Linked DNA regions of Homo sapiens: region 1 is reported to be linked to region 2. The links are microRNA targets in miRTarBase. Many come from high-throughput screens and were not tested one by one. Region 2 holds a microRNA gene; the other region holds the end of a gene's coding sequence.

Evidence for each region. The annotated mature microRNA hsa-miR-218-5p reads UUGUGCUUGAUCUAACCAUGU and lies in region 2 at 3,151-3,171, opposite strand. An mRNA with a match to its seed (bases 2 to 7 or 8) in the 3' UTR can be bound and repressed. Matches are read on the target gene's strand: a 7mer-m8 pairs with bases 2 to 8, a 7mer-A1 pairs with bases 2 to 7 and ends in A, and an 8mer does both.
Region 1: the mRNA of ZNF317 is a reported target of hsa-miR-218-5p. The part of its 3' UTR that is shown has no 7-base or 8-base seed match.

What each region holds. Positions count from the first base shown.
Region 1 is chr19:9,160,136-9,167,595 of GRCh38, forward strand. It overlaps ZNF317 (zinc finger protein 317), which reads left to right. Exons shown (of 7, transcript NM_020933.5): 7 at 1-3,278. The coding sequence ends at 1,298. Among named protein-coding and RNA genes, the nearest start is that of OR7D2, 15 kb to the right of the region's middle. RefSeq lists an enhancer at 1-201.
Region 2 is chr4:20,523,338-20,531,469 of GRCh38, reverse strand. It overlaps MIR218-1 (microRNA 218-1), which reads right to left and starts at 3,195; the gene lies at 3,086-3,195. SLIT2 (slit guidance ligand 2) reads right to left here. Exons shown (of 37, transcript NM_004787.4): 13 at 7,567-7,710; 14 at 7,293-7,456; 15 at 6,298-6,321; 16 at 2,371-2,521. RefSeq lists a silencer at 7,293-7,480.

The sequences.
Region 1 (7,460 bases), not on the chromosome of region 2:
AGTCCACTGAATACGCTCACTTGTTCGAAGTCTTTGGCATGGACCCTCATCTCACTCAGCCAATGGGAAGGCACGCTGGCAAGAGGCCCTATCACCGCCGCGACTATGGGGTAGCGTTCAAGGGCAGGCCGCACCTCACTCAGCACATGAGCATGTACGACGGGAGAAAAATGCATGAATGTCATCAGTGCCAAAAAGCCTTCACCACGAGCGCGTCCCTCACACGGCACAGGAGAATCCACACCGGGGAGAAGCCTTACGAGTGCAGCGACTGCGGGAAAGCCTTCAACGACCCTTCAGCCCTTAGGAGCCACGCAAGAACTCACCTCAAAGAGAAGCCCTTTGACTGCAGTCAGTGTGGAAATGCATTCCGGACCCTCTCGGCCCTGAAAATCCACATGCGAGTTCACACTGGCGAGAGGCCTTACAAGTGTGATCAGTGCGGGAAGGCTTACGGCCGGAGCTGCCACCTCATCGCACACAAGAGAACGCACACCGGAGAGAGGCCCTACGAGTGTCACGACTGTGGGAAAGCTTTCCAGCACCCCTCCCACCTCAAAGAGCACGTGAGGAATCACACGGGGGAGAAGCCCTACGCGTGCACGCAGTGCGGCAAAGCCTTCCGCTGGAAGTCCAACTTTAATTTGCACAAGAAGAACCACATGGTGGAGAAGACCTACGAATGTAAAGAATGCGGGAAATCCTTTGGCGATCTCGTGTCCCGGAGGAAACACATGAGGATTCACATCGTCAAGAAACCCGTGGAATGTCGGCAGTGCGGGAAGACCTTCCGAAACCAGTCCATCCTTAAGACTCACATGAACTCTCACACTGGAGAGAAACCATACGGGTGCGATCTCTGCGGGAAAGCTTTCAGCGCGAGTTCAAACCTCACCGCACACAGGAAGATACACACGCAAGAGAGACGCTACGAATGCGCCGCCTGCGGGAAAGTCTTCGGTGACTATTTATCCCGGCGGAGGCACATGAGCGTTCACCTTGTAAAGAAACGAGTTGAGTGTAGGCAGTGTGGCAAGGCCTTCAGGAACCAGTCAACGCTGAAGACGCACATGCGAAGCCACACGGGGGAGAAACCGTACGAATGCGATCACTGTGGGAAGGCCTTCAGCATAGGCTCCAACCTGAATGTGCACAGGCGGATCCACACCGGGGAGAAGCCCTACGAATGCCTTGTCTGCGGGAAAGCCTTCAGCGACCACTCATCCCTCAGGAGCCACGTGAAAACTCACCGGGGAGAGAAGCTCTTTGTGTCATCCGTGTGGAAAAGGCTCCAGTGAGCGCGCCTGCTTTAGAGACACAGGATGATTCAGACCGGAAACAGACCTCGTGGGTGTAAGAGGAAGCCTCTGTGAGCTCGCACCTTACTGGGTGCAAAAGAATCCACGGAACTTGGGAGAAGTCCAGTTCCTGTAAAAACTGGGAAGACGAGGCGTTCTCATCCCATAGGAGGTTTGTGAGAACTCACGCCGGGGGTGAAAATGTACGTCTGTAGCATGGAGAAGCCTTCAGGGTACATTCAGCTCTTAACAAACACAGGAGGACTTAATGGCAGCTTGGCATTTAATGTCAAAATCCAAGCCGTGGCATTTAATGTCAAAATGACTTCAGACCACTTCTAGCCTTCTGGGCCCATGAGTAATAATGAGCACACTAGGGAGCATCTCTGTAAACACAGTGGCTGGGGAAACCCTTCCTAGTCTCACTTGATTCCTCATGACGGAAATCACACTAAAGAGAGAAATCAGTGAAGTAAGGAACGTGGAAGGTCATGAATGGGCCGCAAACCACGGCCAGCTGCTTGTCTTTGTATGGCTTGCCAGCTAACAATAGTGGTTCCATCTTTAAGGAAGAAGAATGTTTGATGGAGAAAATTTGTGGCCAATGAAGTCTGAAATACTTCCTGTCATCTGCCCCTTTCCAGAAAAACTTGGCCGACCCTTGGTCTACAGCACGGGTTCTCAGTCGGGCGACGATTTGGCTGTCTAGGCGTCATTTGGCAATGTCTAGAGACATTTTTGGTAGTTAGAATGGGGGGAAGATACTCCTGACTTGTAATAAGAAGACATCAGAGATGCTGCTAAGTCGGCTCCAGCACACAGGAGCCCCCCACAACGAAGAGTTAGTGCCCCCAAACGTCACTGTTGCTGAGGTTGAAAATAATCATGCAGTCATTCCTCAATTACTGCCTGCAGCAATTCCTCCATTTTTATGAATCTTGTGAGCACTTACGCTAGGAGAAATTTCTTTTACAAAACTTTTAAAATACAATTAGTGCTGATAATTCCTATGTGGAAATGATTCCAGCCATGGTCCCCTCACTTGAGCATGTGAATATTCTCACGGAGAGAAGCCCCAGCGAGATTTTCCGGTGAATACGGGATTGCACTTACTCTTTCATCACGGAAACAGACCCCCCGAGAGAAGCCCCAACGAGATTTTCCGGTGAATACGGGACTGCACGTACTCTCTCATCATGAAAACAGAGCCCCGTTCATAAATTTTTCATCTTTATTTTTAAGGTTATACTCCTCTAAATAACCCTTAAGCCTCATCAAGAAAGGTTTGTTTATAGTATTTTTACTATAGCTTCATCCTTGATAACGTCCTAATTTCCTTCTGGACAACCTCCTTGACCAATGGCATATTGAGATCTATGTGACATGAGGATATTTCTCAGTACCACTTTGTTACTGGTACCTGATGCACACGGATTGCGACCAGAGCATGATGCCTCCATCAAGTGGTAATATGTTTGCAGCCTGCTGTCCAGCCAAGAGTGACAGATACTTCTAGTGACTTCCCCGGTATCCACTCTCATCTTCTTCCAATATCAAGAGAATCCAGGTTCTGTCAGATTAGTAAGGTGTGCTAATCTAAATTTTAAAAAATCTCTTACAGGTTTTCTTGCAGCTGGTACCATCCATGTCTCACAGCCCTGGCCACTGACAGATCAGCAGATGTCACCACATGGGCTTCTGAGAAAGCTCTTGAATGGGGATCGTTCTTAAACATGAATTCCTCCCTGTATGTTTTGTTCTTTGCTTTACTTTTCACCTTGCAAAGAGATCCAGTACCTAGTATTGGAAGATCCACCTTAACGACCGTGCATATGAAAACCACAGTCTAAGGAAGTGACTGCAGAAAGCTCACAGCGACCCTGGCCTCCCCTGTGGCCTCTTTGAGTGTCTGCAGCAGCCCTGGACTTCCAGACTTCTATCACATGAGAAAAAATAAAACTGATTATTGGTTTAAGCTGCTATGGATATTTCATTGTTTTTCTTTTAAATTTATTTATTTTAAGATGGGGGTCTCCCTATGTTGCCTAGGCTAGATTCGAACTCCTGGGCTCAAACAATCTTCCTGCCTCAGTCTCCCAAGTAGCTGAGAATACAGGCATGTGCCACCACACCCAGCTTGTTTTTCTATTTCATTTGTTTATTGGTGGGAGGGGGTTTCTACACCCAGCTGGATGCTGCCTGGAGCCCATACACCTGGTCATTGGTCAGTTGTGTGGTTTTTTTTTGTTTTTTTTTTTTTGTTTGTTTGTTTTTTGAGACAGAGTCTTGCTCTGTCACCCAGGCTGGAGTGCAATGGCGCGATCTCGGCTCACTGCAAGCTCTGCCTCCCAAGTTCATGCCATTCTCCTGCCTCAGCCTCCTGAGTAGCTGGGACTACAGGTGCCCGCCACCACACCCGGCTAATATTTTTTTGTATTTTTAGTAGAGATGGGGTTTCACCGTGTGAGACAGGATGGTCTTGATGGCCTGACCTCATGATCCGCCCACCTTGGCCTCCCAAAGTGCTGGGATTACAGGCGTGAGCCACCGCGCCCGGCCATGTTCAGATGACTGATTAGCCTATCAAAGGCATTCTTCCGTTTCTTTATGGTGGCTTTGATTTCTGATCTTTCCTTCTGATTCTTTGAGTCTCTATTTTTCTGCTGATGATGTAGGGCAGATGAGCCCCCAAACTGGGGGTTAGCCCAGGAGGGTTCTTGGCTTTGCTCAGGAAAGAATTCAAGAGGCAGCCAGCAGTAAAAGAAATTGGGTTTATTGAAGCAGCAGGGCACAGCAGAGTGGCTGCCCCTTGTGGAGCAGGGCTGACTCATAGGCAGTATACCCAGGGTAGCAGCATATAGGCTGTTGGCTAGCAGTATTTATACCCAGTTTTAATTACATGCAAATTAAGGGGTGGGCTATTCAGACAGCACTCCTCATTCACCTTCCACCATGATTGTGAGGCCTCCCCAGCCATGTGGAACTATGAGTCCATTAAACCTCTTTATGAATTAGGCAGTCTCAGGTATGTCTTTATTAGCAGTGTGAGACACAGTTGCTCCGGCCTATAAATGACACATAGTTTTAAGTCTGTTTCCTGCAGTTCTCCTATGATTGGCCAGGGTTTTGATTCTGTTTTGTTTTTTTGCATTTTCAAATTAAGGGTAGATGATTCTGAGGGTCTTGCTCCAGCTCTGTCTCAGGCCCCCCCACCAGCTATCCCTCTTTCTTGCAGTTTACCTAACAGAGCCTTGGGGTGGGCATGTGTGGGACCGTGGTGCTAAGATTTAATGCTTTTTCTCATTTTACTCATAGTTATGTTGCAATTTTGGCATTCTCTATGTCTTAAAGGCAGTGTTGAAGGTATAGTTTTGTGTAGAAGATTCATAGGTGTGGAGTTACTTCACAGCATTTGAAAGGGGATTTGGGGAGGTTGCTTACCACTCACTGGCCATTGTTTTTAGTTACCTGGAAGTCTCCTCACCTTAGTTTTTGGAGATACTTTGGCTGAATATGTTATTTTATTTTATTTTAATTTATTTTTTGAGACAGAGTGTCGCCCAGGCTGGAGTGCAGTGGCATGATCTCAGCTCACTACAACCTCCACCTCCCAGGTTCAAACGATCTTGTGCCTTAGCCACCTGAGTAGCTGGGATTATAGGTTTGCACCACCATGCCTGGCAAATTTTTGTATTTTTAGTAAAGTTGAGGTTCCATCACGTTAGCCAGGCTGGTCTTGAACTCCTGACCTCAGGTGATCTGCCTGCCTCAGCCTCCCAAGGTGCTGGGATTACAGGTGTGAGCCACCGCGCCTGGTCTGGATATGCTTTAAAGGGGTCATTTCTTTGTCTTCTGGCCTCCATTGTTGCTGACTAAAAGTTAGCGTTATTCTTAACATTATTCCCCTGTAAGTAATGTAAGTAATGTGTTGCTTGTCACTGGCTCCTCTTCAGATAATTATCTTGGGTTTTCAACAGTTTGACTCTGTGTCTTGGTGCAGTTTCCTGTGCATTTACTCTGCTTGGGGATCCTTCAGATTCTTAGATACGTGAGTCACTGTCTTTCACAAGGAAGTATTTGGCCATTATTTCTTCATAATTTTTTAATTGTGGTAAAATAAACATAACATGAAATTCACTGGGTTTTTTTGTTTGTTTGTTTTTGTTTTTTGAGGCAGAGTCTCGTTCTGTTGCCCAAGCTGGAGTCCAGTGGTGCAATCTTGGCTCACTGCAACCTCCACATCCTGGGTTCAAGCAATTCTCCTGCCTCAGCCTCCTGAGTAGCTGGGACTATAGGTGCGCACCACCATGCCCAGCTAATATTTGTATTTTTAGTAGAAATGGAGTTTCACCATGTTGGCCAGGATGGTCTTGATCTCTTGACCTCATGATCCACCTGCCTCGGCCTCCCAAAGTGCTAGGATTACATGTGTGAGCCACCGCGCACAGCCCCATTTTAATCATTTTTTAGGTGTACTGTTCGGTGGCATTAAGTACATTGACAATATTGGCTACCACCACTATCCATTTTCAGATCTTTCTCTTCATTCCAAAAAATTATGTACCCATTAAGCAATCACTCCTCAACACTTCTATCTTCAGCCCCTGGTAACTTGTAGGTAGTGTCCATGAATTTTGTCAGAAGTAGAATAATAAAATACGTTGTTTTGTGTGCGTCTGCCTTATTTCATTAAAAGTAATGTTTTCAAGGCTTATCCATGTTGTAGCATGTATCAGAATTTCATTCCCTTTTATGGCTTAATAAATTCTGTTGCATGTATGTGTCACGTTTTATTCATTCATCTATTGATGAACATTTGGGCTGTTTCTACCTCTTGGCTATTGTGAATCATACTGATATTGATGATTTTTTTTTCTTTTTTCTTGAGATGCAGTCTTGCTCTGTTGCCCAGGCTGGAGTGCAGTGGCGCGATCTGGGCTCACTGCAACCTCTGCCTCCTGGATTCAAGCAATTATCCTGCCTCAGCCTCCAAAGTAGCTGGGTACTCGCCGAGTAGCCTGCCACCATGCCCGGCTAATTTTTGTATTTTTAGTAGAAACGGAGTTTTACCATGTTGGTCAGGCTGGTCTTGAACTCCTGACCTCAGGTGATATGCCCGCCTCAGCCTCCCAAAGTGTTGGGATTACAGGTGTGAGCCACTGCGCCCAGCCTGAAGACAGCATTCTTAGCATGAAGGATGCAAAGTTGAGGCAAAGGAGATCTATCCAAACCAACCTCATTACACTACGGCTTCTGAGCCACTTCTCTACCTGATTAACCACCCTAGCCCACACCCTTGGTTTTATCCCATTAGCGCAGTTTACTTGTCTGTCCAATTCAGTTTATAAGTGTTTGGCTCTTAACTGCTTTTCTGGCTTGTTTCCTTATGAGGAACCCCATGCCACATAAAACTTTCATTAAACAAATACATGTGTATGCTTTAATCTTGTTAACCTAATCGTATGTCGGTGTAATTATCAGGCCCAGCAAGGATCCTAAGATGATGAAGGTGAAATCTTGTTGCCCCTACAATATGGACATTGGATGCAAGTGTCTGTGTGAGTTCCTGCTTTCAATTCTCAGGAATTTTCCGAAGTTGTTTTCTTCCTCATTTTCTCCTTTTGGGACTCCAGCTGCGCCACAGGACTCTGAAGTTCCTGTTTCATTTTTCTAATGTGTTTGTTTTCCAGTTTGTATGACTTCTACTGATATATCTTAAAGTTCACTAACTCTTCTGTCCTCTTCATCTGTGGAATCCATTTAGTGACTCCTTAAAATCCAGATGTCTGAGGTCCTTAGGAAAACAGGTGCTTCTCCCTGTTGTAGCTTGAATTTGCTCTGAATGTGGTGGTCCCCTAAGCCAATAACACAATGCCTCCTGGCCTGCCCTGGCCACCCAGGGAGGAATGAAGGGAGAGGTAGGTGTAGTGGTAATAAGCCTTGCTGTGCACAGCTTTGTGTAATAACTGAAAAGGGTGATGTGTTTTCCTGCTCCCATCCCCAAGCCTGATTTCTTCAAGATGCAGTAACTGGGACGGGTGCAGTGGCTCATGTCTGTAATCCCAGCACTTTGGGAGGCCAAGGAGGGAGGATCACGAGGCCAAGAGTTCGAGATCAGCCTGACCAACATAGTGAAACCTCATTTCTACTAAAAATACAAAA
Region 2 (8,132 bases):
GTTCCCCCACAGTCCTTGGCAACCACTAGGTTACTTTTTGCTTTTACTAATTTTCCTAGTCTGGGCATTTTGCATAAACGGAATCATGTAAGATGTAGCCTTTTCTGTCTGGCTTCTTTTGCTTTGTGTAATGTCTTATTCCTGTTGTAGCATATGGCAGTGCTTCATTATTTTTTAAGACTGAATGATATTTCATTACACAGGCATGACACATTTGTTTATCCATTTATCAGTTAGGAGGCATTTGTGTTGCTTCCATTCTTTGATGGCTATAAATAATGCTGCTATGAACATGGTGTGCACGTTTCTGCCTGGATATATGTTGTCGTTTTTTGGACATATACATAGGAGGGGCATTGCTGGATCACATGGTAAATCGTGATTAACTCTTTGAGAAATAGCAAAAAAGATTTCCATAGAAGCTTTACATTCAGACCAGCAATGTATGAGGGTTTCAATTTCTTCCACTATGTTACTCTCCCTTTTTGTTTTTGTTTTTTTTTTTTAGCCATTCCAGTGGGTCTAAAATGGTATCTCATTGTGGTTTTGATTGGAATGTCCCTAATAACTAATGATATTGAGCAGTTTTTCATGTGTTTATTGGACATTTGTATATGTTCTTTGGAGAAAGGTCAATATGAATAATTTAACCATTCATTAGCTGAGTAAAATACCTTTTAATCTAAATTATAAGAGTTCTGTATATATTCTGAATTATGTGCCTTATTAGATACATGACTTGCAAATATTTTATTCTCAGTACTGATTTTATTATATAATTAAAAAAATTATAAATCTCTTACATTACACACATTTGCTGAAGTCTAAATTGGAGGCTAGTTTCCACTATAATTCCTCCATGACAAACAAACTTATTTAAAGTGCTAGGCCAGGGGCAGTGTCTCATGCCTGTAACCCTGGCACTTTGAGAGGCAGAGGCAGGAGGATTGCTTGAGCTCAGGAGTTCAAGACCAGCCTGGACAACAGGGCAAAATCCCATCTCTACAAAAAGTACAAAATTAGCTGGGTGTGGTGGTGCATGCCTGAGGTCCCAGCTTCTTGGGGAGATGGGGGTGGGGGACTGAGGTGGGAGGATCCCTTGCGCCCAGGAGGCCAAGGCTACAGGGAGCTGTGATTGTGCCACTGCACTCCTGCCTGGGTGAGATAGTGAGACTCTGTCTCAAAAAAAAAAAAAGTACTATTGTGCTGGAAGGTATCACTTGTTTGTAGTATTATAGGTAATAAGCATAAATCCCTATATGTCTATAAAAAATAAAGTTCAGGGCCTTGGTTGCATGGACTCCATGCATTTCTAAAATTCCTGGAGCTGTGAAATAGCTTCATCAACTAATAGGAGTAAAAAAAAAAAAATCACTATAACTACAAGATAGTGGGTTTCTGTCAACTCTTTGAAAGGCATTACTTTATTTTTAGTTATTCAAATTGCTAAAAATTAATTAAGTACAGGCATGAGTATAGGCACAGTGAGAGATAAACAATAACACACAATCCCTGTCATCAAGGAGCTATAATCTAGTTAAAGATGGAAGGATTATATACAAACAAACAGACAACGAACTTTGCAAAGCAGTAAATGACAAATACCAGATGGTGCTATATATAAACATGGCTAAGATGTTTAGAGAATGATGAGGTTTTGCTAGTTTTTTCCCTGAATTGTTAGAACACTAACATTAAAGGTCCTCTTCTTATAAATAAAGTCAGTAAAGGCAAACCATGCATGGGCATAGAATCTGTAAGTGCTCCAACAAACACCTTAGCACTTAGTATGTGCAAGGTCCTATGTTAAGGCTGTTAAGTGTAAATACCATCATATTCTGCCTTTTCAGCTTTTCTTGCATTGTTCAGAAAAAGCTATCCTTTCTACTTTAATACTTGATAACCACTGAATCCTTCTGCCCGTAAGTCAATGAAGTAGTAAATTAGGTAAGACAGACTCCTTGAATCTATTGATAGTTTACAGAGATTGAAAATGGAGGCTCTCAAACTACTTTATTTAGTTGCTATAAGAATTAAATACGTTAAAAACTAAGTACTTAGAAAACAAATTGGGAATAAATAATACCCAATAAATAAGCATCAAATAAATACCATTGTTATTAGTATGAAGTGCTTACTGAATTTTGAGAGATAAATTAGTTTCTGTACTTAATCGTATGGTTGGCTAGAAAGATGAATGAAGGTAGCCTCTAATATATTCTTGTACAAAATAGAGTTATGCCAATGTAATGCATATTAATTAAAATTAATGCAATTATTAATAATAAAAATGGCAAGACAAACATTCTTATGCTTTAATGCTTTCATTCCCTCCATCCCAACCAGAATTTTGTTGGGGGATGAACTTACAACTCTGCAGTGTACTGGGGAATGTGCTCCGGGATTTTGTTGAGCTTTTGATTAGAGCAATCTACTGTGGTTCCTTCACAGCGACACTTTTCAGGGCAAGCCAGATCCGCAAAGCAGTCTCCACTTAATTTTGATCGATAATCTTCTGTACCTATTGAGAATTCAAACCAAAAAAAAGATACTGAGTCTAAAGGTTAGAAAATTTATTAGTTTGTAGGAAGAAAAAAGTAAGATAACTATAGATTATGTAGCAGGGAGACAACTTGGGGTATTTTGGTCAATGGATGTCAGGAGAAAGGTTAAAAGAAAGGCTTGGAATTTTCTGGAAAAAAGAGTGACCAGATTCACATGACAGGAAAACATTAATAAAGTTGAGCTTTTCACAGCTGTACTTTCTGCTGATCCAATTCTGAGTCATTCTAGCCTACTTCACAGCTAGTCACACAATGGATATTAATTATTAAAAAGTTTATTTTTTTTCTCGGAGTCAAGAATTGAAAATATATCCAGTAATAAACATGATCCTATATCTCATTGTAAATTAGGGCTTTCAAGGCAAATAGATATACTCAGGCTTTTAAATTTTCTATGGACTTTTTACTATTCTCTCCCTCTCACATAATCTCGGAGATGCCTAAAAAGCCCTCTTTTTTCATTTTGATTTTGTAGAAAGAGACAGGAAAATCCTGATTTAAGCCTCAGCAGCTTGTCATGCTGTAGAAAGCTGCGTGACGTTCCATGGTGCTTGACGGAACCATGTTTTACTCATACCTCGCAACCACATGGTTAGATCAAGCACAACAGAAAATCTCGCTACATTATCACTACACCAACCACTAGGCCAAAGGTAAGACCAAGAGGAAAATGGAGGGAAGGAGGAGAAAAGCTACAGACGTTCTGGAAACGTAATACTGTTTACATGACATGCATTCTTCCCGCAGAATGTTTATGACCACAGTAAGAGTATTACTACCGATGATTTCCTGGAAACACAAAGAAGGGGCTATATGGAAAAGGTGCCTCCACCATTCCTCAGAACTGCAGAATGGAAACAACAGCTTTCGGGAACAACATCCAGGAAGAAGTTGAAGGTGAGCTACAAGGACAACAGAGAAGCTCAAAAGATCTGTGGTTTCTTCTTGAAAAAAAGGTGCCAAAGACCAAGACTAGAAGAAGGTACATCAGGATTGAAAAGGGAGGGTATTATGTTTCAGATCAGACACTTTTACTTACAGCCAAAATGGTGAATTCCTGCAAAAGTAAAGATCACCAAGAAGGAAAGAAAGAGTAATCCCAATTAAGATTAATATACATATTTATAAAACTAAGCTCTCTTCCTTCTTTCTTTATTATGGGAATTATTGAAAAAATAGCATGATGTGATGGGAATTGTCATGCTTTGTAAAATTTTATAAATAATATTTTGAAGCACGGTGGTCTCACAAGAAAACCAATGTAATAAAAGATGCATAGTGCAAATTAAGTTCTTGATTCCTTTAAAAGATGAACTCTCAAGGCCGGGTGTGGTGGCTCACGCCTGTAATACTAGCACTTCGGGAGGCCAAGGCGGGCGGATCACAAGGTCAGGAAGTCAAGACCATTTCACCTGACGGGTGAAAACCCATCTCCAGTAAAAATACAAAAAATTAGCTGGGCATGGTTGCGGGCGCCTGTAGTCCCAGCTACTCGGTGAGGCTGAGGCAGGAGAATGGCATGAACTCGGGAGGCGGAACTTGCAGTGAGCCGAGATCATGCCACTGCACTCCAGCCTGGGAGACAGCGAGACTCCATCTCCAAAAAAAAAAAGATGAACTCTCTGCAAGACAGATTTTCTTTTATCACTGTAATATGTAGAGTGCCATATAAAATGGTAGTAGCGAGGTACACACGTAAAAGTGAATGAAAAACTAATCATGGAGATCCTCAAGGACAATCATTACAACATTTGGATTAATCCTTATGTTGTGATGTACACTTTTTAATGAACTTTTCAACTTATAAATAATGTGTCTTAGTGGAAATGGAATCAGAATCTCATAAGAAGTTTGCGATGGTAAATATAATCGTTTCATTACATTTGGCAGTTAATGCCATGATATTTACTGAGGATCTGGTGTCTTATGATTTATGCTTCACTCCAAAATGAAATAAGAGTGCACAAAGTCTAAGTGACAGGTACACTGGATATCTTGCAATTCAAATAATCTGCATTCAACGGAACAGTAATAATGCTTATTTTATGGTGGCTTGTTAGGTGGACTCAAATTTTAATTAAAATTTTTGGAAAAAAGGGGAGGAAGCCCAAATGATCCTTTTGAGTCCTGGCTTCTACAATTATCATGTTTAAAGAATGTAAATTAAATTATCATAAATTGAAACTTAAGACATGATATTTGATATAAAAGATAATTTCCAAATCCTATTTTGGCTGCTGTCAGTAACAGGGAAAAACTATATCAGAATATATGAAAACAACCTGACTTTTGTTCTTTATTTAGTGAATTGGAAATATTAAACTTACCAATTATTAATTAAGTATATTTAAATGAAATAGTTTGAATAATTTGATACCAATTACATTACTGCCATAATTTTAGGATTTAAATCATATTAATGTTTTATTCTATAGGTAGTCTGGTGTTTAGAATATGGCTTTTTCTGGTTAAATAATAGCTATCAGATTACTTTCCACTTAATTGGGTAAAGTAATTAATATTAAACATTGTCAATGAAGGCCAATCAACTGTTCTTTTCAACATGTTACTTGTTATGCAGCCAGTATAATAATATACAATGCTATTGATCATTCAAGCTCAAAATAAGTCATATCACCAAATCTACTAAATCCATAAAATTATACAAATTGTAATTCAATAATGGCAAGCTAACAAATATCTCCTTAAAATAGAGACTAAACCCAGAGTTCTTCTTAAGAAAATATGGAAAGTTAGACTAACTCTGTACACTAACGCTGTAGAAATATCTTTTAATCTATAGCTCTTAAAATTTTTTATAGTCTAGAATATACCCAAGAGACGGTGAATGTGGCCAATCGATACTTAACATAATGGTTTAAAACAAACAAGTCAAGAGGCATTTTACACAATTGGCAGGCAAGGAAAAATAAGTAAAGAAACGTATTTTAAAGAGCTAGTTCTAGAATCATCAGTCTTGATAGTGTTACGATTGAAGTGGTAAAACATTGCGATTACTTTTCTTAGAAACATTTTATCCATCTGCCTAAATTATTCAAGGCATTTTGTGCCCATGAACTTCTGATGCTTTCACATCACACATAAATATTCTTTTTTATGGAGTTATATTGTAATTCTGGATATAGAAGAATGTAAAGTCATAAACAAATAAGAAACAACTGCATATAATTCAGCAGGGAGTTGCTGTTTTTCTATAAACAGTGAAGCAAAAGTAAAGCAATAAGTACAGTTTTTAAATATAAGAATCTATAAAAAAGTAATTTTCATGATTGAAAATGAAATTCTGTGTGTAACTGATTTCATGTAGAACTAGCTCTTTGACATCAGAAAGATCTCTGTCTTTAAAACCAGCTCAATTAGCTATATTTTAAAAACAGGTTGGAAGATCAGATATACAATGTAAGGAGAGAAAATGATTTAAGTAGAAAGCCATAGCTTCAAACATTTTAGCTACTGTGAGAAATTTTAGATAATGCGCCAAAGTAAAAGAAAGAGAAGAAAAGGTGGAGTTTAATAATATATGTTTAACATCAGAAGCTGCATGCAAAGGTCAGGATTTCAGGAAACAGCTACAAGTGATATATGCATAAGTCAATCTATCTATAGAGTATCCACTGTACTTTCAGAAGCATGCATATCAGTTTTAGAAGCTATATTTTATAAGGTGAGGAAAGGGTGTCTGTAGTTAGTCCTACTACCGAGCAAAACCTACCTGGAATGAAATACTGTTCTTTAGCTAAATAAAAAAAGAGACAAAAAATAGAAGATGCACCTGAATGTCAGCAAGCAGAGATATGAGTTATATTAGATTAAGAATGGACTAAAGTTACTGCAATTAAGTGAAAAATGTATATTCACAGCTGTGACTGAAGTACAATAATGTACAGTGAGTAGTAAATGCATCTATAATTATGGACAATAACCAGCTTGGTTCTTATATTAGCTTTTTAGTATGAAATTAACTGCCGAATGTGAAATACGCCTGGAATAGTTAGGTAGCATAGTACCAAAAAGACATAAAATATTCTATCATAAAAAAGGAAAATATTAGATCAAAGCAAACAGTAAATTTGAATGATGGCAGCCTTTCATTTAATATCAATACAATGCATTCATATTTAGCTTTTTACAAATAAATGCAATATTCCCACAATATTTTTAAAAATAGCTTTTGGAAAAAACGCATCCTCACGGTTGTATGCAAAATAAGAGAATGCAAACTGAGAAAGTGCATTCAGAGTAAGAAGCAAGGGATCTGGAGTCCCTCCTGGCGCCCCTGTACTTCTGAGCCCAAACAAATCATGTAACCAAGTCTCAATTCACTTTCTGAAGAAATGAAAACACAGTTAATTACTTGAGGCTGGTCAATTCAACAAACATGAGACTTAACATACTTTAAAGGTATTCTGAGTTAGCTATAAGGCTCTGGTTAAGTTTGAATTTTGGAAAGGTACTATGAAGTATCTAGGCATCTTTTTAACTTGGTCAATTGCCTATTTCTTCTGCTGTATATGGTGTTAAAATGTTACATATAGAAGTATTATTTGAATTGGGTCTACAGTCCTCTTTATTTTATTATTCATGGGCAGAAGAAAAAGAAATATGATTCTACAGTGTTCACTAATCAGCCGAAGGCCAGCTGCTTTTGTTAGGTCTCATGTAACCATTGTTGTTGGTCACAGGGGAAATAACACGTGAAGAAATTACCTGAACAACGGAATTTCTTGCTTTTGATCTGTCCAATTCTTTTGTTTGCCAGGCGGCGGGGGCTGGTGCAACGGGCACCACTGGTCTCAATCGGGTTGGTATGGAGATAATCCGCTAGCCACTTGAGATGGCAGTCACAAATAAAGGGGTTCTGGGCCAAATGCCTTTGGAAACACATACAGAACAGTTTTATAGATGACTTGCAATGGACTCAGCTCTTACATTCAGAGAGGAAACAATGTCATCAAAAGTGATCCAAATCACTTATACATACATAGTTTGAATGGCCCGAAGAGGTGAAAAGGTCCCCTTGGCGATGGTCTGAAGCTTGTTGTCATATAGGGAGAGAAGGTTCAAGTTGTGGAGATCCTGAAAAGCATCTACCCGAAGGCAGTTTATCTTGTTGGCATTCAATAATCTGTTTGATTAAATAGTTGTAGAATTAAAGTGTAGCATCTTATTAACTCACCTGCAAGATTTTGTGCTTTTTAAGGAAACCCAGTCAAGAAATATATTTCTTTTCACCTCAACACTAACATTTTAACTTTAATAATTTAGGAATTAGAGGCTAGAGATGTGGGGTTTTACCACATAACAAAAGTCATGTGATCAAATGAACCTAAATCTAGTGGTATTTATACATGTATTCAATACACATTATTAACCATTTCCTCTGGAAGATACAAAGGTGGGATAGTACACAAAGGTGGGTGAGACCCAGCCTCCACTGGCAAGGACACCATAAAAATGCTCTAAGACATCATTAATCCCTCAGGACACTCTGTGCAAAAGTAGTTCAGGCTATTCTCAAAACAGTAGCTAGTGTGATCCTTCTAAACA